7 linked regions of the Homo sapiens genome follow. The protein of the gene in region 1 purifies or fractionates together with the protein of each later gene. This does not show direct contact. Each region holds a gene or a part of one and is shown on either strand. Other genes may lie near its edges.

The links.
Region 2: the proteins of HDAC8 (region 1) and CROCC purify together in Homo sapiens (affinity purification with mass spectrometry; one large-scale study listed by BioGRID and IntAct). This does not show direct contact.
Region 3: the proteins of HDAC8 (region 1) and ZSCAN2 purify together in Homo sapiens (affinity purification with mass spectrometry; one large-scale study listed by BioGRID and IntAct). This does not show direct contact.
Region 4: the proteins of HDAC8 (region 1) and CPNE3 purify together in Homo sapiens (affinity purification with mass spectrometry; one large-scale study listed by BioGRID and IntAct). This does not show direct contact.
Region 5: the proteins of HDAC8 (region 1) and TPM4 purify together in Homo sapiens (affinity purification with mass spectrometry; one large-scale study listed by BioGRID and IntAct). This does not show direct contact.
Region 6: the proteins of HDAC8 (region 1) and MDM1 purify together in Homo sapiens (affinity purification with mass spectrometry; one large-scale study listed by BioGRID and IntAct). This does not show direct contact.
Region 7: the proteins of HDAC8 (region 1) and MME purify together in Homo sapiens (affinity purification with mass spectrometry; one large-scale study listed by BioGRID and IntAct). This does not show direct contact.

What each region holds. Positions count from the first base shown.
Region 1 is NC_000023.11:72,489,344-72,492,843, reverse strand, and holds part of HDAC8 (histone deacetylase 8), read left to right. Parts: intron 1-1,837; coding exon 1,838-1,915; intron 1,916-3,500. UniProt on the Homo sapiens protein: Histone deacetylase that catalyzes the deacetylation of lysine residues on the N-terminal part of the core histones (H2A, H2B, H3 and H4).
Region 2 is NC_000001.11:16,949,431-16,952,930, reverse strand, and holds part of CROCC (rootletin), read right to left. Parts: intron 1,979-3,500; coding exon 1,809-1,978; intron 1-1,808. UniProt on the Homo sapiens protein: Major structural component of the ciliary rootlet, a cytoskeletal-like structure in ciliated cells which originates from the basal body at the proximal end of a cilium and extends proximally toward the cell nucleus.
Region 3 is NC_000015.10:84,599,702-84,603,808, reverse strand, and holds the start of ZSCAN2 (zinc finger and SCAN domain-containing protein 2), read right to left. Parts: upstream 2,801-4,107; 5' UTR 2,674-2,800; exon of another isoform or gene 2,294-2,673; intron 1-2,293. UniProt on the Homo sapiens protein: May be involved in transcriptional regulation during the post-meiotic stages of spermatogenesis.
Region 4 is NC_000008.11:86,545,435-86,548,934, forward strand, and holds part of CPNE3 (copine-3), read left to right. Parts: intron 1-1,160; coding exon 1,161-1,247; intron 1,248-2,276; coding exon 2,277-2,336; intron 2,337-2,866; coding exon 2,867-3,000; intron 3,001-3,500. UniProt on the Homo sapiens protein: Calcium-dependent phospholipid-binding protein that plays a role in ERBB2-mediated tumor cell migration in response to growth factor heregulin stimulation.
Region 5 is NC_000019.10:16,089,995-16,093,494, reverse strand, and holds part of TPM4 (tropomyosin alpha-4 chain), read right to left. Parts: intron 1-3,500. UniProt on the Homo sapiens protein: Binds to actin filaments in muscle and non-muscle cells. Plays a central role, in association with the troponin complex, in the calcium dependent regulation of vertebrate striated muscle contraction.
Region 6 is NC_000012.12:68,308,363-68,311,862, forward strand, and holds part of MDM1 (nuclear protein MDM1), read right to left. Parts: intron 1-3,500. UniProt on the Homo sapiens protein: Microtubule-binding protein that negatively regulates centriole duplication. Binds to and stabilizes microtubules.
Region 7 is NC_000003.12:155,139,319-155,142,818, reverse strand, and holds part of MME (neprilysin), read right to left. Parts: intron 2,629-3,500; coding exon 2,527-2,628; intron 829-2,526; coding exon 692-828; intron 583-691; coding exon 489-582; intron 1-488. UniProt on the Homo sapiens protein: Thermolysin-like specificity, but is almost confined on acting on polypeptides of up to 30 amino acids. Biologically important in the destruction of opioid peptides such as Met- and Leu-enkephalins by cleavage of a Gly-Phe bond.

The sequences.
Region 1 (3,500 bases):
TGCATATAGTAGTGGCTCATTAAAATATTTGATCAATGAATGATTATGAAATTCAAACTATTAGTATCGGAGTTTAAGAATACAATCAACTCTACAGAACCACATAAGAATGAACTGAAACTGTCACCTGAAAGTGTTCTTTCCATTTGCAATGTTATTTCTACACCCTTCAGAGTTTCCTGTTTTAGCCAACTTTTATGGTGTGTTTCATTTCAGTTTATTTCCCCTCTTCAGCACCTCCCTTACAGTGACCCCTGCCCCACCCCCCAACACTTATGCATTTGGTTTATTTTAAATCTCCCATGATTACATAACTAGCATCCTGTGGTGGCTTCACTAGCCACCCCTACCCCATCCTTGCCTTCTTTCATCTACCTAACTACTCTCCTCTTTCCCACCAAGTCCATAGCTTCCTCCTATCTGTGTACATCTCCTTTTTAAATATGATTTTATAACTGTGCCTAGTGGTATTTCCCATGAGAAGAAATACAAATGGCCACTAAACTTATGAAAAGGTGCTCAACACTCTAATACTCAAAGAAAGGCAAATTAGAGCAAAACCATTCTTTCTGCCTAAGATTAAAGAGAATAACAATAGTTTGGGAACTCTCATACATGATTGGTCCAAGTGTAAATTGGTACAACATTTCTGGATTGATCAATAATCAGGATTTTCATGAATTATCCTTGTTTAAGACTTCATTTCTAAGTTGAAATACTATTTTCATTTATTTTGTTTGTTTTATTTTTTTTACTTCATGCTTTTTGCTTAGAGCCTTTAACTGGATTTAACTGCCTCCCTAGGGCCAAACATAAGGCTTGGGAAATTCAAACATACCTGTTATATATAAATAGAGTTAATATTTTTTTAAAGTCGCTGTTGGGGCTGTAGTGAAGACTGAAAACATTAAATAAATACAGAGACAATTTCTTTGTTTGAAGTAAGAAAGAGGACAGTACCTGAATTTGCTAATAGTCCTCCCATTTTACAGATTGATTATCTGAACATAGTGTGACTATATGTGATTCTGAGAGGAAAGGGGTGGAGGTGGGCAGTGTGTTTACCTGTATACGTAGAGGCTTGTGAGGGTTACTTTAAATCCCAGCTTTTATCTCCCAGGCCTCTAATCGTTTACTCACTAAGTTAAAATGGAAAACAGACCCCTTTCTCGCCCATCTTTCTTCAGATTTTAAAACACTCTTATAAGGCTGCTATTAGGAGACAAGGTCACGGCTGTTTTCAGCCTTCCATGTTTTAGCCAGAAAGATGTACTATAAGTTACTTATTTATAACCAAATCTGCATTATAGAAAGGCACTTTATAATTAGGTTTTTGGTATATAATGGCTAATGTTTCTATTGGTCATATTTTTCAAAGGGTTATCACGTTGTACGTCTTTGGAAAAAATCCCAAGACTTTAACTATAACCACTTAAACAAGACAAAACATACAACTTGTAAGATGGTTCCAGTTTCCCTTATTCAATTCTGTTGATAATGCCTCAATTCTAGGCTCTCGCCTTTCCCTACTTTTTAGAACAGGTTGTCAAAGAGAGCCCAGACATCCCATTGCTTGGAAAGGGGAAGTCCAGTTATAGTTTTCCATGAGTTTGAAAAGGAACCCCCAAACTTCACTTGGGGCCAAAGTTCTACCTCATCTTGTAATTACGAGATTAGAGACCAGAGGTTCGTATTACTTTTATTCCTCAGCTTGTTAGTTTTATATTGCTGCCTTCTCATCTACCCTCCTTCTCACAGCTGCTTTCTAGATTTTCAGATGTTGAAAATAGGAATGCCATATGTGAAGTGATTCTTTTGATGTTTCTTTATCTGTTAGGTGTAGAAGACGCATTCAGTTTCACCTCCAAAGTCATGACCGTGTCCCTGCACAAATTCTCCCCAGGATTTTTCCCAGGCAAGTGATCATAAACTCAGTATTACATTTGATGACTAAATACTGAAATTCTTCTACACATTTCTTATACTTGGACAGTTCCATGCTGTTAATGCCTTACTGCCACAATCCTATGCAAAATTTTTTTTTTTGCATTTTCATTCAGATAGGAGATAATTTTGTAAATTTCTTTTTTATTATACTTTAAGTTTTAGGGTACATGTGCACAATGTGCAGGTTAGTTACATATGTATACACGTGCCATGCTGGTGTGCTGCACCCATTAACTCGTCATTTAGCATTAGGTATATCTCCTAAAGCTATCCCTCCCCCCTCCCCCCACCCCGCAACAGTCCCCAGAGTGTGATGTTCCCCTTCCTGTGTCCATGTGTTCTCATTTTTCAATTCCCACCTATGAGTGAGAATATGCGGTGTTTGGTTTTCTGTTCTCGCGATAGTTTACTGAGAATGATGATTTCCAATTTCATCCATGTCCCTACAAAGGACATGAACTCATCCTTTTTTATGGCTGCATAGTATTCCATGGTGTATATGTGCCACATTTTCTTAATCCAGTCTATCATTGTTGGACATTTGGGTTGGTTCCAAGTCTTTGCTATTGTGAATAGTGCTGCAATAAACATACGTATGCATGTGTCTTTATAGCAGCGTGATTTATAGTCCTTTGGGTATATACCCAGTAATGGGATGGCTGGGTCAAATGGTATTTCTAGTTCTAGATCCCTGAGGAATCGCCACACTGACTTCCACAAGGGTTGATCTAGTTTACAGTCCCACCAACAGTGTAAAAGTGTTCCTATTTGTCCACATCCTCTCCAGCACCTGTTGTTTCCTGACTTTTTAATGATCGCCATTCTAACTGGTGTGAGATGGTGTCTCATTGTGATTTTGATTTGCATTTCTCTGATGGCCAGTGATGGTGAGCGTTTTTTCATGTGTTTTTTGGCTGCATAAATGTCTTCTTTTGAGAAGAGTCTGTTCATGTCCTTCGCCCACTTTTTGATGGGGTTGTTTGTTTTTTTCTTGTAAATTTGTTTGAGTTCATTGTAGATTCTGGATATTAGCCCTTTGTCAGATGAGTAGGTTGCAAAAATTTTTTCCCATTCTATAGGTTGCCTGTTCACTCTGATGGTAGTTTCTTTTGCTGTACAGAAGCTCTTTAGTTTAATTAGATCCCATTTGTCAATTTTGGCTTTTGTTGCCATTGCTTTTGGTGTTTTAGACATGAAGTCCTTGCCCATGCCTATGTCCTGAATGGTGATGCCTAGGTTTTCTTCTAGGGTTTTTATGGTTTTAGGTCTAACGTTTAAGTCTTTAATCCATCTTGAATTAATTTTTGTATAAGGTGTAAGGAAGGGATCCAGTTTCAGCTTTCTACATATGGCTAGCCAGTTTTCCCAGCACCATTTATTAAATAGGGAATCCTTTCCCCATTGATTGTTTTTCTCAGTCCTGTGCAAAATTTTAACACAGGTCACCTCAGGTGACAATAACAAGAAGAATGACATTAAAGCTGTTTCTTTTTCCAGGTGATTTTTATGGACTGTTAACAGATCACTTATGCTTACTATACTAGTAGACACCC
Region 2 (3,500 bases), on another chromosome or scaffold:
GGGGCCAGGACAGGCCGTGTGGGCCATGGGGATTCTAAGGACAGTGAGGGGAGTGGGAGAGAGGACTCGAGCCAAGGTGACAAGGAGCAATCTGATTTTTAGCTTAGGGGATGTTCCGACAGCTGTGGAAGAGGGATTGGGGTTGGGATGGAGGGGAGTTAGGACTGGCTGTGAGGAATGAAGGGGGTCAGGGGTTGCCAGAGGAGCTGGAGAGAACACAGATTTGGGGACATTAATGAGGCCAAGCCAGGCAATGCAAAGGGCAAGAAGAGCAAGGGGGAGGTCACAGGAGTTCAGATCCCTGGGGACTGGACAGGCGGGCAGGCAGAGCCCACAGGCAAATAGCAGCCCACCTGGGGAGCCTGAGGGCAGGTGCCTGCCTCAGCACTTGCCCCTAGCAACTCTGTGAGAAGCAGACAGAGCTGCCACTTCTTTTTTTTTTTTTTTAGACGGAGTCTTGCTCTGTCACCCAGGCTGGAGTGCAGTGGCGAGATTTTGGCTCACTGCAACCTCTGCCTCCCAGGTTGAAGCGATTCTTCTGCCTTACCCTCCCAAGTATCTGGGACTACAGGCGCGTGCCACCACGCCCAGCTAATTTTTTGTGATTTTTAGTAGAGATGGGGTTTCACTGTGTTAGCCAGGATGGTCTCGATCTTCCGACCTGGTGATCTGCCCACCTCGGCCTCCCAAAGTGCTGGATTACAGGCATGAGTCAGCACGACCGGCCAAACCGCCCCTTCTTTAAGATCTTCACCGTAGCTCATGCCTGTAATCCCAGCACTTTGGGAGGCCGAGGTGGGCAGATTACGAGGTCAAAAGTTCGAGACACCCTGACCAATATGGTGAAATCCCGTCTCTACTAAAAATGCAAAAATTAGCCAGGCGTGGTGGCGCGCCTATAATCCCAGCTACTCAGGAAGCAGAGGCAGGAGAATCGCTTGAACCCAGAAAGTGGAGGTTGCAGTGAGCCGAGATTGCGCCACTGCAATCCAGCCTAAGCAACAGAGCAAGACTCCGTCTCAAAAAAAGAAAAAAGAAAAAAAAAAAAGAGCTTTACCGCCACCTCCTGGAGAAGCGTGGTAACAACCACCCAAGGCCAGGGGTACTGCAGGGTGAGTGGCATGCCCTGGAGCCATGCAGTCATAGCCTGCACCTCTGTCAGAGGCAGCCCTGTCTAGGATTTGGTGGCTGAGGGCCCCTGTCCCGAGGGCCACTCTGGAGAGCATGTCAGTGCCAGCAATCATAACTTATGGAGCATTTGCTAAGTACCAGTCACTATGCTAAGCCCTCTATGCAGATGGTCTCAGCTCATCTTCAATACCTTTCACTATCCTATCCCTATTTCTACAGGTGGGGAAATGAAGGCACGGACACCTTGGGTAGCATCACCAGTAAGCGACCAAGATTCGATTCAAACCCAGGCAATTCAAACCCAGAGTCAGTGTTCTAGTAACTTCCCTGGCCCCTTGCCTTTCTATATGCTGAGGTCTGAGTGGCTCTTCATATGCAAACAGTACTTCTTAGCAAATGAAAGTGCTTTCCTGCTGTACATTAGGTCAGTATTTCCCAAATGTGGTTGTGGACCCTCTGCATCAGGATTACCAGGGCTGGACCAGATTTGGGACCTGGGAATCTGCATGTCTAATAAGAACCACAACCTCCCCATCCCCCCAGTCCTCCTAGCTGTCCCCAGGACCTCCACAACAGAGAGGAAGTCCCATTTCACAGATGTAGAGACCGAGGCAGAGCAAGAACGATGATGAAACACTGGCTCAGAGTCCTGCCCACCCCTCCCCAGCTGCCTGAACCTTTTCACGCTGGAGTCGCTGTAAGTCCTCCTCGTGAGCTGCCCGCTGCTCCCGCAGAGAGGCCTGGGCCTCCCGCTCAGCCTGCACCAGCTTCTGGGCCATCAGCTCCTTGTCTAGACTGGCTTTCTCCTGTGTAGCTATTATTTGCTGCCGCAGGCCCGCCAACTCCCCTGCACGAGAGGAATGGGGGAAAGGGCAGGGTTGGGTTGAAACTTTTCCTTGGGCCAGCAGACTTAGGCCAGGTGAGCCACATGGGCAAAATCCCAGAGGCAGAGGGCCTGCCTGGCATCTAGTTTGGGTCCTCTTGAAGTGGCTTGCCCTCTCTGGGCCTCAGTTTCCCTATATGCTACATGGGCCCACTGGCCCTGACCCCTTTCCTGCCTACCTAGAATGGCATTAAAGGCATAAAATGACTGATGAGAAGGCCTCCCAAATGGGACGGATGTCAAACATATAACAACCCTAGGTCAGGTGCCTTGGCTCACGCCTGTAATCCCAGCACTTTGGGAAGCTGGGGCAGGTGGATCACCTTAGGTCAGGAGTTCAAGACCAACCTGGCCAACATGGTGAAACCCTGTCTCTACTAAAAATACAACAATTAGCCAGGCGTGGTGGCAGGCGTATGTAGTCCCAGCCTCAGGGAGGCTGAGGCAGGAGAATCGCTTGAACCCAAGAGGCAGAAGTTGCAGTGAGCTGAGATTGCACCACTGCACTCCAGCCTGGGCAACAAGAGTGAGACTCTGCCTCAAAAAAACAAATAGGCCGGGCGCAGTGGCTCATGCCTGTAATCCAGCACTCTGGGAGGCTGGGTCAGGTAGGTCACCTTAGGTCAGGAGTTTGAGACCAGCCTGGCCAACACAGCGAAACCCTGTCTATACCAAAAATACAAAAATTAGCCAGGCATGGTGGCGGGCATATGTAGTCCCAGCTACTTGGGAGGCTGAGGCAGGAGAATCGCTTGAATGCAGGAGGCAGAAGTTGCAGTGAGCCGAGATCGCACCATTGCACTCCAGCCTGGGCAACAAGAGTGAGACTCTGTCTCAAAAAACAAACAGGCTGGGCGTGATGGCTCATGCCTGTAATCCCAGCAGTTTGGGAGGCCAAAGCGGGTGGATCACCTGAGGTCAAGAGTTCGAGACCAGCTTGACCAACATGGCGAAACCCCGTCTCTACTAAAAATATAAAATTAGCCAGGCATGGTGATGCATGCCTGTAATCCCAGCTACTTGGGAGGCTGAGGCAGGAGAATCGCTTGAACCCAGAAGGCAGAGGTTGAGGTGAGCCGAGATAGTGCCATTGCACTCCCGCCTGGGCAACAAGAGTGAAACTCTGTCTCAAAACAAACAAACAAAAAACAACCCTATTCCTGACTGAGCACTTACTATGGGTCAAGCGCCCAGCTAAGTATTTTAGACATAACCTCATTTTGTCTTCATAACATGCCTATGTAGTTTATCCTCATCCCCATTTAACAGATGATGAAATGGAGGCTCAGAGATCAGCAGCAACTTCCCACAGCTGCACAGCTACACATAAAGCATCTCCTTTAATGACTGACATGAACATACCCGTCAAACGTTAACTATTTATATTAATGGAAATGACTACAGGGAATGGAAATGGTATAGCTACCATCTAAAAACCATCTCCCGGGTTGGAAACCCACCAGCATTTCCCTTCCTGGTTCTGTCT
Region 3 (4,107 bases), on another chromosome or scaffold:
AAAAGAGAACCATAATCCATAGGTAGACTGTCCTAAAGCAATCTAACTCACAAAAGCCCAGGTCAGACCACCAAGTGGCCCTTACATATGCAAACCAACAGACGTTTCCTGTTCTTCTTAAAGAAAAAATGGCTTATTCCTGAAAACATCTCTCTGTGGTAAAAGAAGGCTGGGTGCAGTGTCTCATGCCTGTAATCCCAGCACTTTGGGAGGCCGAGGTGGGCGGATCACCTGAGGTATGGTGAAACCCCATTTCTATTAAAAATACAAAAATTAGCCGGGCGTGGTGGCGGGGGCCTGTAGTTCCTGCTACTTGGGAGGCTGAGGCAGGAGAATCTCTTGAACCCAGGAGGCGGAGGTTGCAGTGAGCACAGATCTCGCCACTGCACTCCAGCCCAGGCAACAGAGTGAGACTCCGTCTCAAAAAAAAAAAAAAAAAAGTATCCCAAGCACAAAAAATACAGCATTGTTCCTTCCAAAACACCAAAGAATGAGTATCAGAAATGCAAAGTCCCCGGGAAAAACCCATGACTGAAATACTGAGGACTCTCCTAAGTCAGTTTCGACTTGCACTGTGTGACCTTGACCTAACATACAACTTAGTCACCAAACTCGGTGACCACCTAATAAAGATAATAACACTCATGTTTCTGTTTTTATGGGGGCATCTTAAGGATCAGCAATGGATCAGATGTCAAAGCACTCTGAGCTTCTTTGGAAGAAAGGCAATATCTCAACTGCATTATTACCATACTTTAAGTATGAAGTTTAAAACATGCATATACTCTCCAATCCAGCCTCGGCCCCTCAGTACTTTATCTTAAAAAAATAACCAAAAAATCGAGTCCTTAAAAATCCAGCAGCAGGGAATGGCTAATAAACTATGACACACCCATATAGCAGCATGTATTAGAAACTGTGCTATAGGCTTGGCGTGGTTGCCTGTAATCCCAGCACTTTGGGAGGCCTCGGCAGGCGGATCACTTGAGGTCAGGAGTTCGAGACCAGCCTGGCCAATATAGTGAAACCCCGTCTCTACCAAAAATACAAAAATTAGCCAGGCATGGTGACGGGCGCCTGTAATCCCAGCTACTCAGGAGGCTGAGGCAGGAGAATTGCCCGAACCTGGGAGGAGGAGGTTGCAGTGAGCCGAGATCGTGCCACTGCACTCCAGTCTGGGCGAAAGAGCCAGACTCTGTCTCAAAAAAAAAAAAAAAAAAAGAAAAGAAAAGGAAAAAAAAGAAAAGAAACTGTGCTATAATAATGGCTACCTTTAGGTGGTAATGACAGGAAAGGGGCTCAAAGGAGCCTTCTGGGATGATGGAAATTTTCAATATCTTCATTTGGCAATGGCGGCACAAGAGCAAACATATGAAATTTAAGATCTGCACATTACGCTGTATGTTTTTAATATTTTAAAAATTATATTGACAAAGATTAATCATTAATGATTTAAGATAATCCTTCTGATAGGAAAATAATGGATAAACACAAAATCAGCAGGGCAGAAAAACCATAGACACAGTAAGTCCTCAATTCCCTTTAAAAATGAACTCACAGCCGGGCGCGGTGGCTCAGACCTGTAATCCTAGCACTTTGGCAGGTTGAGGCGGGCGGATCACCTGAGGTCGGAAGATCGAGACCAGCCTGACCAACACGGAGAAACCTCGTCTCTACTAAAAACAAAATTAGCCAGGCGTGGTGGCGCATGCCCGTAATCCCAGCTACTCCGGAGGCTGAGGCAGGAGAATCGCTTGAACCCGGGAGGCAGAGGATGCGGTGAGCGGAGATCAGGCCATTGCACTCCAGCCTGGGCAACAAAAGCAAAACTCCGTCTCAAAAAAAAAAAAAAAAAAAAATGAACTCACAGGAAAAAAGAACGGGACGGCACCTACAAAATATTGAAAGCAGTGGAATTGCAAACGACTTAAAATATTATAAAAGCAATACAAAATTATTTTTAGCCCAAGCGCTGTAGCTCACGCCTGTAATTCCAGCACTTTGGGAGGCCGAGGAGGGAAGATGGCTTGAGGCCGGGAGTTCATGACCAACCTGGGCAACAGAGTGAGACCCAGTCTCTACAAAAATAAAAAAATTTTTTAAAAAATCATTACTACATCATAAAGACTCAACTAACAACCCTCCCTCAATGAAAAGGGGAGAAAAGCTGACAAAAGCTTAAAAAAAAAAGGACAAAAAATAAAAGCTAGTGGGAAAACCGAAGCTCTCAACGTGTATTTACTCAAATGACTAGAAGAAATACTGGCATATGGTGTAAGAGAACTCTTCCTACTTGGGAGCCTGGGAAAAGTGTGCCAGGTCAGCTAATTTGCGGTCTGACTTGGGGCACGACACGCCCCCTCTGAACCTCAGTTTCCCCATCTGTAAAACGTGTACGCTGCGCGGGATGTCGTCGAATGCCCCTTCCCGTCCAAAGCCTGCGCTTCTCGGTAGGAGAGGCAAGGAGCTCTCCGCCAGGGAGACGCGTCCGGGACGGTTCGCTGAGCGGAGCCGGCGCGTAAATCGGGGCTGCAGGGCCCGCAGGATACGGAGCGCGACCCCGACGCCCCTCCCCCAGCAGAGCTGCCGGCAGCTGGCTCCAGGCCCACTATTCCCTCACCTCGGGCTACTGCCCGGGGTCCGCGTGGCTCCAGGCCTGCCTCTCCGGCTCACCTCTCGGGAGACCAGGTCCTGCTCTAGCGGTTGCTTCGCGTGCGAAAGCGCCCCCGGGCTCGGCCCGGCCCCTCCAGATTCACCCCGGCTCAAGCCCGTGGGGCACCGAGAACAATGGACGGGAGAGGCCCGCCCACCGCCGCGCTCATTGGCTGCCGAGAACGGCCCTGGAAATTCTGCCTTTCTGTTGGTGGAGACGGCACCCAGCCGGGCGGCAGGAGGGAGGCTGGGCCCAAGGCATTGTGGGAGATGTAGTCCGCCCGGAGACGAACCTGACCGCGGTCCCCGGAGTAGGGTTTGGGGCTGACAGCCTGGGCAGTGCCTGCGGACCAGAGGCAGGAAAATCCGCAGACTGACCGTCAGAAACCCTGTGTTGGCTAGAGCTGTAACCCGAGACAAGCCGTTTCACTTATCTAAGGCCTCTGTATATTTGTCTATAAAAAGTGAAAGTTGGATGGCCGGACTTGAAGGACCTTTTCGGCTGCGAACCTTGTGGCAAGGAGTATTGTTAGGCACCCTCGACCGGCGAGAGCGGACCCTGGGCAGGAAGGGAATCCATGGGGGAACAAATCCTCATCGCCCAAGCCTGGCGCCTTTCCCCCAGTTTGCAGCTGTACACATGCACCCGGTCTTCGCACACCCCTTTGTTTTCGCACGTGGTATTCCTGTGTTTGGAGGAACGCCCTGCCCCGCCTCCTCTGCCGCGGAACTCCCATTCTTCCAGCTTCTCCTGGGTGGAGCCTGCCCTGTCATCACCACCTCCCCAGGCAGAGACACCGCCCCTAGTACACGTGTTGGACGTCCCCATTTTATTTTTTAAATATATATATGTATGTATTTGTATATATATATATATATTTATTTATACACACACACTCACAGACAGGATCTACATTTCATAGAGACAGGGTTTCCATATGTTGCCCAGGCTGACCTCGAACCCCTGGGCTCAAGCGATCCTTCCTCCTCAGCCTCCCAAAGTGCTGGAATTACAGGTGTGAGCCACCGCACCTGGCTGACGTCTCCATTTTAGTACTGATCACCGGGTTGCTTACTTGTCAATCTCAGTATGGGGGAAGGGAGGGTGCCCGGGTGTGGGAGGTTGGCCTCCATCTTTGTGTTTTACGGCTGGCGCTGTTGAAGAAACGGCTGCCCCAACCCTGCTTGAAAACAGGTGAGAAACTACCTGGAAACTCAAGCGGAAAATCTAAAAATGGAGAGAGACACCCTTAATGGTCTGTGATAGAATAGTTATGTATGTTTGCACTGAGCAATTACTGGAGGCACCTGCAATGAAATGACTGCTTTTTTTTTTCCTCCTCTGTCGCCCAGGCTGGAGTGCAGTGACACGATCTCGGATCAAGTGATTCTCCTGCCTCAGCCTCCCAAGTAGCTGGGATTACCGGCGTGCGCCACCACACCTGGCTAATTTTG
Region 4 (3,500 bases), on another chromosome or scaffold:
AGGTATAAATGAATAAGTGAAGTAATCTAGCCCTTTTTCAATGAGAATTCGGTTTGTGGAATTTCTTTAGCTCTAATATATAATAATTTTTTATTGTTTTTCCTTTCTTTAATTTCTAATACTCAACAATTAATACTTATGATTGTGACTGAGACTCCAGCAAGATCCTGAACCATCAAAGAATTTGTTTAACATAATTTTGTTTCACATCATTGTATTATACCACGTGTATTTTTTAGTGTTTGATTCTTGGAAAACTAGTAATGACTGTCTGAAGTACATAAGTGGCTTTGTGTTAACCAGAAGAGGTGACTTATCAAGCATTTATTGAATATCTCTTATATTATTATTAGGCAAGACAGTGAGAATTTGAAGGTATAAGTTGGAGGTGATTATAATGTCACTGTGAAGAAAAAATTAAATGAGACACTTGAAAATAACACAGAGTATGTAACTAAATTTCATATAGTTGTAGAAATTTAAAGAGGTAGATAGAGATCAGAGAAGACTAGAGTAGCAGTGGAAGTTACAGAGGAGAACAACTTGAGCCAAGCCCTAAAGATGGATAGGGGGATAGGAAGGGGAAGGAAGATCATTCTTTTGGGGGAAGGAAATATAAACAAGAGGAGGTGTTAGATCAATTTTTAACATGTATTCCCAGTGGAAAGAGAAGATCTTTGATGCATATTTTACCATAGAGTTGGGCTTCATATATTTGTTTTATGATGTTATTTTTTTTTCTTTTCTTTGCAGCATATTTTCGTTCTTTATGTTGGTAACAGCTAGGAGTAATATTTTATTTCCTTTATTATACCATGTTATATCATAGGGCCCAACTCTATGGTAAAATATGCAGCAAAGAGAAAAAAGATTATGCCTTGGAACATTTGCAAGGAAATTACCTGCAGAGGTAAAATTTATTTGGGAGAAATATTTTGAAAGGTATGCAATTTTAGGAGTGCCTTAATTGTTGGAAATTTACCTGATAAATATTCCACATACTTAACATATTATGTAATTGTTTCAGAGTTATATTTTGCAACAGACCTACATCAGTAGGTAGTTTGATTCTAAAGGAAAAAAAGTCATTCATTTAAAGTCACATTGGCATTTCTAATATTGCTAATAAAAAGTAACATTTTTGTCTTCTCTTCCTACAGGTTGAATTTGAATGCATAAATGAGAAAAAAAGGCAAAAGAAAAAAAGCTACAAGAATTCAGGTGTTATCAGTGTGAAACAGTGTGAGGTCCGTTGGCCTTGGCTACTTATTTTTATTTATTTATTTATTCTTTTTGAGCTGGAGCCTCGCTCTGTTGCCCAGGCTGGAGCGCAGTGGTGTGATCTCGGCTCACTGCAACCTCTGCCTCCTGGGTTCAAGCAATTCTCTGCCTCAGCCTCCCAGGTAGCTGGGATTACAGGCACCCACCACTACACCTGGCTAATTTTTGTATTTTTAGTGGAGACAGGGTTTCACCATGTTGGCCAGGCTGGTCTTGAACTCCTGACCTTGTGATCCACCCACCTTGGCCTCCCAAAGTGCTGGGATTACAGGTGTGAGCCACCGCATCCGACCCAAGCCTTGGCTACTTATAATATAATGAGATTATATTTCAAGTTCTCCTGTTAGTATGTTTATATTAAACAAATACTTGAATTTCAGGCAGTTGAAAATCACATGAGCATCTGGTCACCTTTAGCAAAAAGAATCAAGTAGGGAAGAACAAAAAAATCAAGTAACCTGTTTCCAAGGTTTGACAACTTATTTGCAAAGGACAAGGATAAGTTTTTCGTTATCTTAGGAAATATAAAGCATCATAGTATTTTCTCAGCTCTTTAGTGGAAATGACCTTACCCAATGCATTTATCCTCTTCATACTTTCAATATAAAATGTTATGAGTAAAGGGGAAAAGCCAAGATTTTTTAGGGTGAACAAGTGGAATGGAGTTTTTGTTTTTTAAAATGTTGACTGCTATGCTTTTTAAAGCCCTCAACATATTGGATTCATTACTAATATCTTAAAACTTAAAATGAGTGTATTTCATCTTTCGCCATTAGTATTCTAATCTTAACATTGCTACAATTATCTTGAAGCAGAATTTTACAGATTCATGGCACATAGGGGAAGGGGTATCTTAAACCTGAATGCAGGGGTAATTTCCATGTTTATATCATGTCCTGTTCAATTTACAGACTTTTAAAAATATATGCCAAAGAGTTTTTTGCTTCTCTTGTATAGTAGGAGAGTTGTAATTTTAAGTTTTCTCTTATTTTTAGATTACAGTAGAATGCACATTCCTTGACTATATAATGGGAGGATGTCAGCTGAATTTTACTGTAAGTAACACACTGAATTTTTCAGCATAGGCTTTTTCCTCCATGTTGCAGTATATTTTCTTTCACTGCAAAACTGACTTTGTAATGAAATTTTCACAATCTGTTTAGCATAGTCCTCTTAGAGTCCTCAGGCAGGTTGTCTGGGCTCATCATGAAGCTCTCAGTTTTGTTGATGAGATCTCTTCCTCCTGAGAGAAAGCAGATGTATACAAACCTACAAACTAGTGGTTATCCTGAACTAATTTAAGGACTAGAAAGCATTAGTGAGACAACCTTATAAAAGACAACCCTTAAGCTTAAGTAATGGATACAATAATTCATTATTTAAGCCATCTAGAAAAGTAGAAGCATCAGGTTGTTTCACATTTAGGCTTTACTTGTTTAATTGTCTATGGAAATAGTGGTAGGCATTTGTTAGGAAGTAGGCGCCAGGATGCATGATTGTATCCCATCTCTTGAAGTTTTCCTGGACATCAAGCACAGGTGTCCCTGCCTTCTCCTTACTAAGGGCTGCAATTGTTATTTGGCAGGTGGGAGTGGACTTCACTGGCTCCAATGGTGACCCAAGGTCTCCAGACTCCCTTCATTACATCAGCCCCAATGGCGTTAATGAGTATTTGACTGCTCTCTGGTCTGTGGGACTGGTCATTCAAGATTATGATGCGTGAGTATGACTTTGGAAAAACTAAAATACATGTTTTCACAATTCCCCAGAAAGGGTAGTTTGTTTCATCGGCTAGCACTCTGATATAGGTGGTAGGTTGATGATGCTTTCTCCCTAAAATCCCCCCGTCTTATCTTCTATTTTTCTCCTTGTGGCAATCTTGCTGTTTACCTTAGATCTCTAATATCTTTCTGTGATTAGTTATCATATATGGCATGTACTTTGCTTTATATTACATATAGTTTGCTACTTACTTCCTGACTGAATGTCAGCAAGGCTCTTGTTTCTTTAGTCTGGTTTCCTTGGGGCTTATTCATTAGGCATAAGTTGTATGAGTGATTGAAGCCCAGATGACATGTTTTATAAATACTGTTTATAAATACTAAATATTATTTATGTTAAATACTAAATACTATTTATAAATACTAAATACTATTTATGTTAAGAAATAAAAACTATTTCTTAGCATATCTATGTCCTTGGCAGTTGCCAAATTATTT
Region 5 (3,500 bases), on another chromosome or scaffold:
CAGCCAGGCATGGTGGCTCATGCCTGGAATCCTGGCACTTTGGGAGCCTGAGGCTGGTGGATCACAAGGTCAGGAGTTCGAGACCAGCCTGGCCAACATGGTGAAACCCCGTCTCTACTAAAAATACAAAAATTAGCCAGGCTTGGTGGCATGCAGCTGTAGTCCCAGCTACTGGGGAGGATGAGGCAGAAGACTCACTCGAACCTGGGAGGTGGAGGTTGCAGTGAGCCGAGATCACGCCACTGCACTCCAGCCTGGGTGACAGAGTAAGACTCCATCTCAAAAAAACAAACAACAACAACAACAAAAACAAAAAAAAAACAGAAAGAAAGAAAAGGAGGGCTGGGTGTGGTGGCTCTCACCTGTGATTCCAGTGTTTTGGGGGACCATGGTGGGAGAATTACTTGAGCCCAGGAATTTGAGACCAACCTGGGTCACATAGTGAGACCCCGTCTCTACAAAGAATTTAAAAATTAGCCAGTCATGGTGGTGAGCACCTGTAGTCCCAGCTAATGGGGACGCTGAGGAGGGAAGATGGCTTGAACCCTGGAATTCAAGGCTGCAGAGAGCTCTGATTGGACCACTACACTCTAGCCTGGGCAACAGGGCAGGACCCCATCTCAAAAAAAAGGAGGAAGAAGCATAAAAAGAAGTAAGCAGGCCAGGCACGGTGGCTCACGCCTGTAATCCCAGTACTCTGGGAGGCCAAGGCGGGTGGATCGCTTGAGGTCAGGAGTTCGAGACCAGCCTGGCCAACATGGCGAAACGCTGTCTTTACTAAAAATACAAAAATTAGCCAGGTGTGGTGGTGGGTGCCTGTAATCTCAGCTACTCAGGAGGCTAAGGCATGAGAATTGCTTAAACCCAGGAGGTGGAGGCTGTAGTGAGGCCAGATGGCGCCACCGCACTCCAGCCTGGGGCGATGGAGTGAGACTCCATCTCAAAAAGAAAAAAAAAAAAAAGTAGGCAGAGTAGAGGCAGGCACCTTTCCCCAGCAGAAGAAATATGTGTGAAATGTGGAGGATGTTGGGGAGAGTCCTGTAGGATGGTATTGATCAGAAGGCCTAAACTGAGAACTTGAGATAAAAAGTATGGCGAAGAAAGGGAGATAACTGGGAATCTGTTACTCAAGGCCCCCTCTGTATTTCCAACCCCATTCTCCACCACCTTCCCCAGGGTGACAGGCACTCCCTGATCATAATCTGTGGACTCCTGAGTCCCAGTCCCTGTCCATGAATGCACCCCTTAGCATGGAATGTTCCCCTCCCCATGATGACCCATCAGAAATTATACTTTTCTTTTCTTTTTTTTTTTTTTCAGACAGAATCTTGCTCTGTCACCCAGGCTGGAGTGCAGTGGTACGATCTCGGCTCACTGTGACTTGCAACTTCTGCCTCCCAGGCTGAAGCAATTCCCCTGACTCAGCCTCCCAAGTAGCTGGGCCTACAGGCGCCCACCACCATGCCCAGCTAATTTTTGTTATTTTTAGCAGAGATGGGGTTTCGCTACGATGGCCAGCCAGGCTGCTCTCGAACTCCTGACCTCAGGTGATCCGCCTGCCTCGGCCTCCCAATAATAACTAACACTTATTAGCTGCTTACCATGGGCCAGACATAGTTAATGGCATCACAGCCTGGTATCTGTAATCCCATTTTATAGGGGAGGAAAGGGTCACAGAAAGGTGAAGTTATTATTTTGCCTAGGGTCACATGGCTATTAAGTGATCAAGTCATGACTGAAGCCTGACTCTGGAGTGCAGTGGGGCAATCTTGGCTCAATGCAACCTCCGCCCTCCAGGCTCAAGTGATCCTCTCACCTCAGCCTCCCAAGTAGCTAGGATCACAAGCATGCACCACCATGCCCAGCTAGTTTTTGTATTTTTGGTAGAGACGGGATCTCTCCATGTTGCCCAGGCTGGTCTCGAACTTCTGAGCTCAAGCGATCCTCCCGCCTCGGCTTCCTAAAGTGCTGGAATTACAGGCATGAGCCACCGTGCTGGACCTACAGCTGTTTTAAATGTCGCCTCCTTGGTGACACCGTTCACAACCTACCAAGGTCCCTCTATTGTATTCCCAAAGCACTCTGTGACTTTGTCAATCCCTTCCACTAGACTCGACTCTGAGCTCTTCAAGAGCAGATGCCAGGCTGGGCACAGTGGCTCACACCTGTAATCCCAGCCCTTTGGGAGGCCGAGGTGGGTGGATCACTTGAGGTCAGGAGTTTGAGACGAGCCTGGCCAACATGGTGAAACTCCGTCTCTACTAAAAATACAAAAATTAGCTGGGCGTGGTGTGTGCGCCTGTATTCCCAGTTACTCAGGAGGCTGAGGCAGGAGAATTGCTTGAGCCTAGGAGGTGGAGGTTGCAGTGAGCTGAGATCGTGCCTCTGCACTCCAGCCTGGGCGACAGAGCAAGGCTCCATCTCAAAACAAAACAAAACAAAGCAGCTGAGGTATTAGTGGTGTTACATCTATCCCCCTGGCCCGGGGCAGTGTCTGGCATACACACACCAACTGGATTCATTCCTTACACATCCTAGTATCAGATATATGCCAGGGCTGGCACATATGGGAGACAGAGGCAGGTGGATCACTCGAGGCCAGGAGTTTGAGATCAGCCTGGGCAACATGGTGAAACACCATCTCTACTAAAAAAAAAAAAAAAAAAAAAATTACACACACACACTACAGATATATGCCAGGCACAATGCTAGTACTAGGGACACAACTCTGAACAAGATGACATGGTTCCTGTCCTTACAACTTACAATCTAGCAAGGAAGGCATGCAATTAATGGAGTAACTATAATAAATGTAAGAAATCATAATGCCAGCAAAAGTATAGACAGGGCTACACAGCAGAGAAATACCTAACCTAGATGAGAAATCAGAGAAGGACTCTCAGAAGTGATGTTTAAGCAGAAGCTCAAAGGATGAACAGGAGGCCAGGCTCGGCGGCCTCCCAAAGTAATCCCAGCACTTTGGGAGGCCAAGGTGGGAGGATCACTTGAGGCCAGGAGTTCAAGACCAGCCTGGCCAACATGATGAAACCTTGTCTCTACCAAAAACTAGAAAAATTAGCCAGGCACGGTGGCCCACGCCTGTAATCCCAGCACTTTGGGAGGCTAAGGTGGGAGGATCACTTGAGGCCAGGAGTTTAAGACCAGCCTAGGCAACATAGACTGTGCTCTATAAAAAAAAAAAAAAAAATACAGTTTTGGAGTAGTGGCACATGCCTGCAAGTCCTAGCTACTCAGGAAGCTGAGGTGATAGGATTATTTAAGCCCAGGAGTTTGGGGCCTGCAGTGAGCTATGATCACGCCACTACACTTCCAGCCTAAGCAACAGAGCAAGATCTCATCTCTAGGCCAGGTGCAGTGGGTCATGCCTGTAATCCCAGCACTTTGGGAGGGCGAGGCGGGCAGATCACTTGAGATCAGGAGTTCGAGACCAGCCTGGCCAATGTGGTGAAACCTCATCTCTACCAAAAATTATAAAAATT
Region 6 (3,500 bases), on another chromosome or scaffold:
TGATCCACCTGCCTTGGCCTCCCAAACTGCTGGAATTACAGGCATGAGCCACTGCGCCCGGCCCCTGTTCTTTCTAATTGGAAAACAATCTCTGCCCCAGATCTCTGCATGGGCACCTTCCTCATCAGTCAGGTCTCAGCTAAAACGTCATCTCCTTAGAGGTGCCTGTCCTGATGGCCCAAACTAAAGCTGTCTTACCCATCCCTTAGAGACCTGTAGTCTTATTTAATTCACAGCGCTTACTACTATGTGAAATTATTTTCTTAAAAAATTGTCTATTCCTCCCAATGAAAATGTAAGCTTCATGAAGGCAGGGATTTTGACCTGATTATCAATAAATCCTCAGATCCTAGAACAGTGCCTGGCACTTGGTAAGAGCCTATTAAATATTGAATTGAATGAATGAAAATAAAACTACCCTCCAAAGAGGCTCCTTGTCCAGAGTTCTCTTGCTCAGTGCATGGTACCTCCATCAATCTTGTTGGGCAAGCCAGAAACTTAGCAGGCATCCCTGTCTCTCATCCATTATCCAACCCAGCATCAACCTTAACATTGTTCCCCTTACATAATTGTGCAGTTTCATCCACTTCTGTCTATTCCTACCCTCCTTCATCCAAGCTACCAACACCTCCTACGTGGACTACTGCAATGGCCTTTTAAGGGCATTCACAGCCTACTCTTGCCTCCTATGGCAGCCGGACAGATCTTGCAAAACATATATCCATCACAATTCCCATACTGAAAATATTTCAATGGCTTCCCATTGCTCTTGAGATAACGAAAGAAATCCCAATGTTGCCATGTTTTCCAGCCTCATGTTGTACCAGGCTCCCTGCCACACACTGTATTGGTCTTTGTTTCCTCAAACTCTACATTGTTTCTCTCCACAAGATCTTGGCATATGCTAGGCTCCTTCTCCCCATCCTTTTTTCCTGGTTAATGCTTCCTCTTCTCCTTTATCTTAGCTCAATTATGAGTTTTTCAAAGAAGCATCATTGACTTCCAAGAAGGTTTCTGATCTCCATGATTAGAACAATTCCTTCCAGAATAGTGCTAAGTACTTTTATTTTGAAACTCTTATTAGTTTTAATTTCATTTCTTTTTTGGTGTGATTAACATGTATCTCCCTTACCAGACTGCAGGTTTCATAAGATTATGTACCATGTCTGTTTCTATCCATTATCATTGCCATAGCATGTGGGTAAATCTGCTAAATGAATGAAGTGAGCAAATCCACACTTGGGTTTTTAATATAAAGATTTGAAAATGTTTCCTGATGATCAAACCAATATGAGAATTCTACCCTAAAGTTTTGGGACATACTGATAATTTATTGGAAATTGAATGACCTATGGGTTTAATTTTATACATAATAATAACGTAATTTCTTATCAATGCTTTTATAAGAGAATATAAGGGGAAAAACTGATGGTGTATATCAAAGTTTAGTGACTCCTCTGCCTACCAGTAACCAAGGGGTAGACACTGGGAAATAACCAAATCTAGCTAGCTCCTGGTATAGTCCCTGGTAGTGCTGGTCGCAGAAAATTCACATGGAAGGATATCCAATCAAGTTGTCAATAATAAACTTGTGTACGTATGTACATATGTATGTATTTATTGGTTTGGAGAGAGTCTTCCTCTGTCTTCCAGGCTGGAGTGCAGTGGCGTGATCTCAGCTCACTCCAACCTCCACCTCCTGGGTTGAAGTGATTCTTGTGCCTCAATCTCCCAAATGGCTGGGATTACAGGCATCTGCCACCACGCCCAGCTAATTTTTGTATTTTTAGTAGGGACAAGATTTCCCCATGTTGGCCAGGCTGGTCTTGAACTCCTGGCTTCATGTGATCCTCCCACCTTGGCCTCCCAAAGTGCTGGGATTATAAACATGAGCTACCGCACCAGGCCAGAAACTTATTTTAGAGGAGTTGGTAATTAAAATGTTAAAAGTGTATAGTACTCACAGTGAGACAGAGAATGGCATTAACATTCTAAGGGATGATATTACTCTATTTAGATTATTCAATAAATTAATTCCACAGTAAGTGAAAATAATACATATAAATCCAGCCACAAATATGGATGAGTCACTCGTTTTGGCTGAATCAGCTGTGTGTATACAGTTGCCTAAAAGCTCACACCTTCCAGATGGCAGCCTGGATTTCTAAGGAGGAGTAAAACAGTCCATTAAGATCTGATTCTCATGAGTCCTCTGACCATATTCCTAATGTCACATTTCCTTTAATAAACCAGTGTATACATAAGCAACAGGAAATAGTTTTGATATTCTGTCACTCCAATAACATTCATTCAATCTGTTACGTGCTATGAGCTGGACTCTGTTCTAAGCACTGGGGATTAAGAGGTAGAGGGTGCTCTGATCCCATCTCCCACCTGTTCCCAATCCCTGAAAACTCCTACTTTGTACTCAAATTCACAAACAGCCATCAGCAAAATTCCCTATAGATTTTCAACCTTTTCTCTGAATGTTCTCTATTCTACTCCAACCACTTACACCCATGATGTTAAGTTAAGCCTTGTCATTACTGGTAACTGCAACCTCTCCATAACCTAAATTTCTGACCACCATTTCCTAACTTTAAAACTAATCCCCACAGGTGCCCCAATTCCAACAAGTCTTTTATTTTACCTAGACCATCCATCCACCGATCCTATCACCTCTGCACTCTTCTCAAGTCCCAGTGTCCTTCCCTCACCAACTCATTATAATCCCTTCTTCATATATACCTCAACTCCATTCCCCTTTTTCTCACTTTGTCTTATTCTCATGACAAATTCAAAACCCTAGGTAAATCCAACTCTATCTGATAAAAGTATCCTGCACTTCTGCAGCCAAACATTACTGGAGAAGGGCACACAACCCTTCCTGACTGGTCTTCTGCCAACTTTGTGACCACCAACTTAAAATGGCCCCTTAACATTGGCCTAAAATATCCCACATTCCCCTGGCCCACTCACTCTCCCACTCTCTGAGAAGACTACTCTATGCCTTCACTTTCCTCAAATCTCCAACATCTTCCCCAGCCTTATTCTCAGTAAGGATCTTTCTTCACATGTCACCAAGAAGCAATAAGAAGAGGTCTTCCAAAAGCTGCCATCACATCTTCCTACATTCATCAGCAGTGCCTGCCCATGAATTCTGCTTTCCCTCTTTTAACAATAAAGAAACAATCAGTGTCTAAAGCCAACCCTTCCATATCTCCACCAGATCCTAAGCCCTTTCTCCTACTCAAGAGCATCTTTCCAACAACTTTCCCCTCACTCCTGCATCATCAACTTTTCTCTCTCCAAAATTATTCTTGTCAACATACAAACATGCTGTTGTGTCTTCCATCTTGTTCTCACTTCTCTCAACTACTCCTGCATTACTCTGCTTCCCTTCTTGGAAAAGAAACTTCAGAGAATTATCTGTGGCAGCTTTCTCCAATTCTTCTCCTCTTTTTTCTCTTGAATTCACTTGCACTTAGGCTTTTGTCCCT
Region 7 (3,500 bases), on another chromosome or scaffold:
CCATAGTACCAAAACAGTGATTGTTTAAATAATATAGGTATAGGCTAAGAAAAGGTCTTATTTAACTCCAGGTAGGGGTACTTTCAATAGACTGCCCACATCAATATTGTCCATCTGTGTATATGTCCAGTGTGCAATGAGCACCTGAAAATCAAATTAATTAAAATAGATAACCCCGAAATTACTTTTAACACAGTAACAACAACAAAAAATCCAGACAGTATTCTTTCATGAACTGGTTAAATAACCAAATGTAACTCCTTACAGGACAATGCAATCATCGTGCCACATAGACCATCATAAGATGGTAAAGCCCATGAAGATTTATCTTCCTCAGCAACATGTCCTAAATATGTGCAAGATAACGAACTTTGGCATTTTGTCCCTTTGCAAAGTTCACCATGTCCTAGCAGTGTACATGGTAAGCCTTCATAACCATGTATCACTTTATGCTTTAAGTCTTAAGAAAAGAGAGATTTTTTCTTCACCTTGCGGAAAGCATTTCTGGACTCCTTGTAGGTTCGGCTGAGGCTGCTTACAAGATCCATTATGAATCTCCAGGACATTAAATTTTGAAGATCTCTGTATAAAAAAAACCACCGCCCAGCAACAGAAAAGATGAGGCTGCAAAGCTTCTGAAGAGTGATATGAAATGCAAACTTTGAGGACATGGGGACTGTGACATACCTACCTGGCAGAATATTTGGTAAGAATGGGCTTAAGTTTGGTTAAATATTCTGGAGCATAAACAACCACATCTTCCTCATTTGTAATACTAATATTCACAGTTGACATGATTTCATTTGTGAAATTCAACCAGCTGAATGGCTGGAAAAAAGCAGGCATGAAACATTCAGAAATTGTGGATTTCTCTTCTTGGGTCCAAGATTCAGTTATAGTTAGAGGGTTGGATCAGTTTGATATTCACTTGGGATTCTTCCTCAATTGTTTCAATCAGTTTTTAAATAAAAACTAGTTCTGCAACATGATTATTTACCTAGCATAATTAAGCCAACCATTTAAGAGCGAAAACAAAGCCTTTAAGCTTAAGGAACATATACCTAGAAATTAGGCTTAATGTCATCTTCTTTGTCTAACCAATACAGAAAATAAAAATATAATTTAAATTTAAATTTAAAAATAAAGCTTTTTTGGTTTATGCAAAAATGGAAATGTGTGTAAAGTGTTTAGCTTTTAAAAGTGGGTATTAATAAACAATTCATTCAAACACAGTAACACATCTCAGTGGAAATCCTATTATAGATGAAAATATACTGTTATAGCAGTGGTACAGTGATGTTATGAAGTCAAAGAAAACAGCATCTTTTCAATTATCGATATTGGGTCTACAGGCATGCCATGTTTATACTTCAGAAGCTAAGTACGGAGTTGCCAAAAGATGAAATCTTGTCTTTCTAAATGGGAATTGATAATGTTTAAGACTATCAATATCTTAGGTTGTATTTTACACACACAGACACAAGCACACATCACTTACTGAGTATAGGGTGCTATGCTATACAATTTTCTTCATTTCCTTTGGTGGTTTAGGTCATTCTTTCAAAACGTATTTATTAAACACTTATTATATTAAAAAATTCTATGTAAGATGTCTAACTCAATAGTTTATGCCTTTGGAAAAGTCCTTGTTAACTAGAATTAGTGCCAAAGAGAATGTCATCGCTGAATGTGGTAGTTTGTAGGTTTTCCCATGGATATTGCTTCATCTCTTGGCTGTGTGCATCAACTAATACACGAGAATAAATGCATAGCCACAAAAAGAGATTATTGGATACTAGGTAAGGAAAAAGAAGTCAACTGCTGTTTATAAATGGAATCTATGAGAGAGCTTTTCTTTTTATTTGTGTCCTATTTCTGAATTATTGTTCTGAACACCTCTGTAGATGGCCTTGATGAGAACACGGGAAGTTCTATGAATAAATTATCCTTTTTTGGAGTTAAAAGGAAATCTAGTGCTTTTATTGTGTGACTGTCCAAGTCTGATGACTACATAATGGCCTCTCAGAAAGATTTTCAGTTTTAGTATTTTTCAAACCCCTTCCTATGGGAGTTTCTAGTATTATTGTATAGCTGCCTTAAAAGGAATTTTACCAGCTAAGAGTGGTGGCTCACACCTGTGGCTAACACTTTGGGAGGCTGTGGCCGGCAGATCACTCGAGCTCAGGGGTTCGAGACCAGATTGGCCAAACCTCATCTCTACTAAAAATACAAGAATTAGCCAGGTGTGGTGGTGCATGCCTGTAGTCCCAGCTACTTGGGAGGCTGAGGCAGGAGAATCGCTTGAGCCTGGGAGGTGGACGTTACAGTGAGCCAAGATTGTGTCACTGTACTCCAGCCTGGGCAACAGAGTGAGACCCTGTCTCAAAAAAAAAAAAAAAAAAAAAAAAGGAATTGAAGTCCCATTTACTTCAATAAATAAAAACTTGACGAATTTTAGAAAGAGTATTTCAATGTTATAATTTAGAAAACGGCACAATAAGAGAGCACAAAAAACTTACCACTTACCTTCCCATTGATCTCTAGTGAAAAGTTATTTTGGATCTGGGCCAATGTCATCTTGTTATACAGAAGCATTGGATCATTTCGATCTTCAGGTTTAGCCGTAGCCTATGGATTTAATTTTTAATCATTATTTTAGAATTAAGAATTCTTTAGAAAAATATAACTACATATGAGGGTAAAAATATAGGATAGGTACAACATAATTTAAGTCCTATTCTGTACTTGTTTTTGTAATTTGTTTTGTCATTTCAAAAAAAGTGAAATGTAAGAGATTTTTGGAGTAGAAGTAGTAAGAATTATTGAGATTTGGCTGTGGGGTCAAGTTTAAAATTTTTAAAAAATCTGTCTATATTTTGACAACTGCCAAGCCATATAAGCAATATTTATGAGCTATGGCTAATGGCCAGTTCAGTTGTGTCTGTGAATGTTTCATATTTTAACTTTCTTTGATATAGTCATCTCCAATTTCTCTCTTAAATACTCTCTCTCCCATCTTCACCATTACCATTCGGTGTCCTAGTTAAAATTCAGCAAGGAAAAAAAGGTGCAAGAGTTTCTATAAGAATTTATCGCAAGTAACAGAGAAACTTCCTAGTACAGAGCACAATTTGGTTGCAAGTTATCTGAGAATGGCAACATCATGGACCTTTGTGACTGTTCTCCTATCCTGCCAGACCAGCAGCATCCAATTTTATTTCTTTCACTGAATTAAAAAGAAAAATTGCAATAACAACTCCCCAACTAGTGGCTGAAATGAGTAAAAGCAATTTTAAGTGAGAAGAGACAAAAGGTAAAGGTTTAAAATTGGAATTATTTCTCAGTGACAATGGCTCCAGTTTCCCCTTTAGGTCACTTACCTATTCATTTACTGAAAACAATTATTTATTGAGCATGTCCTTTGTGCAATACTATGCTGGATTTTGTTAGAGATGCATAAATGATTCAAAGACGTCTAAGGCCTCATGCCAATCTAATAC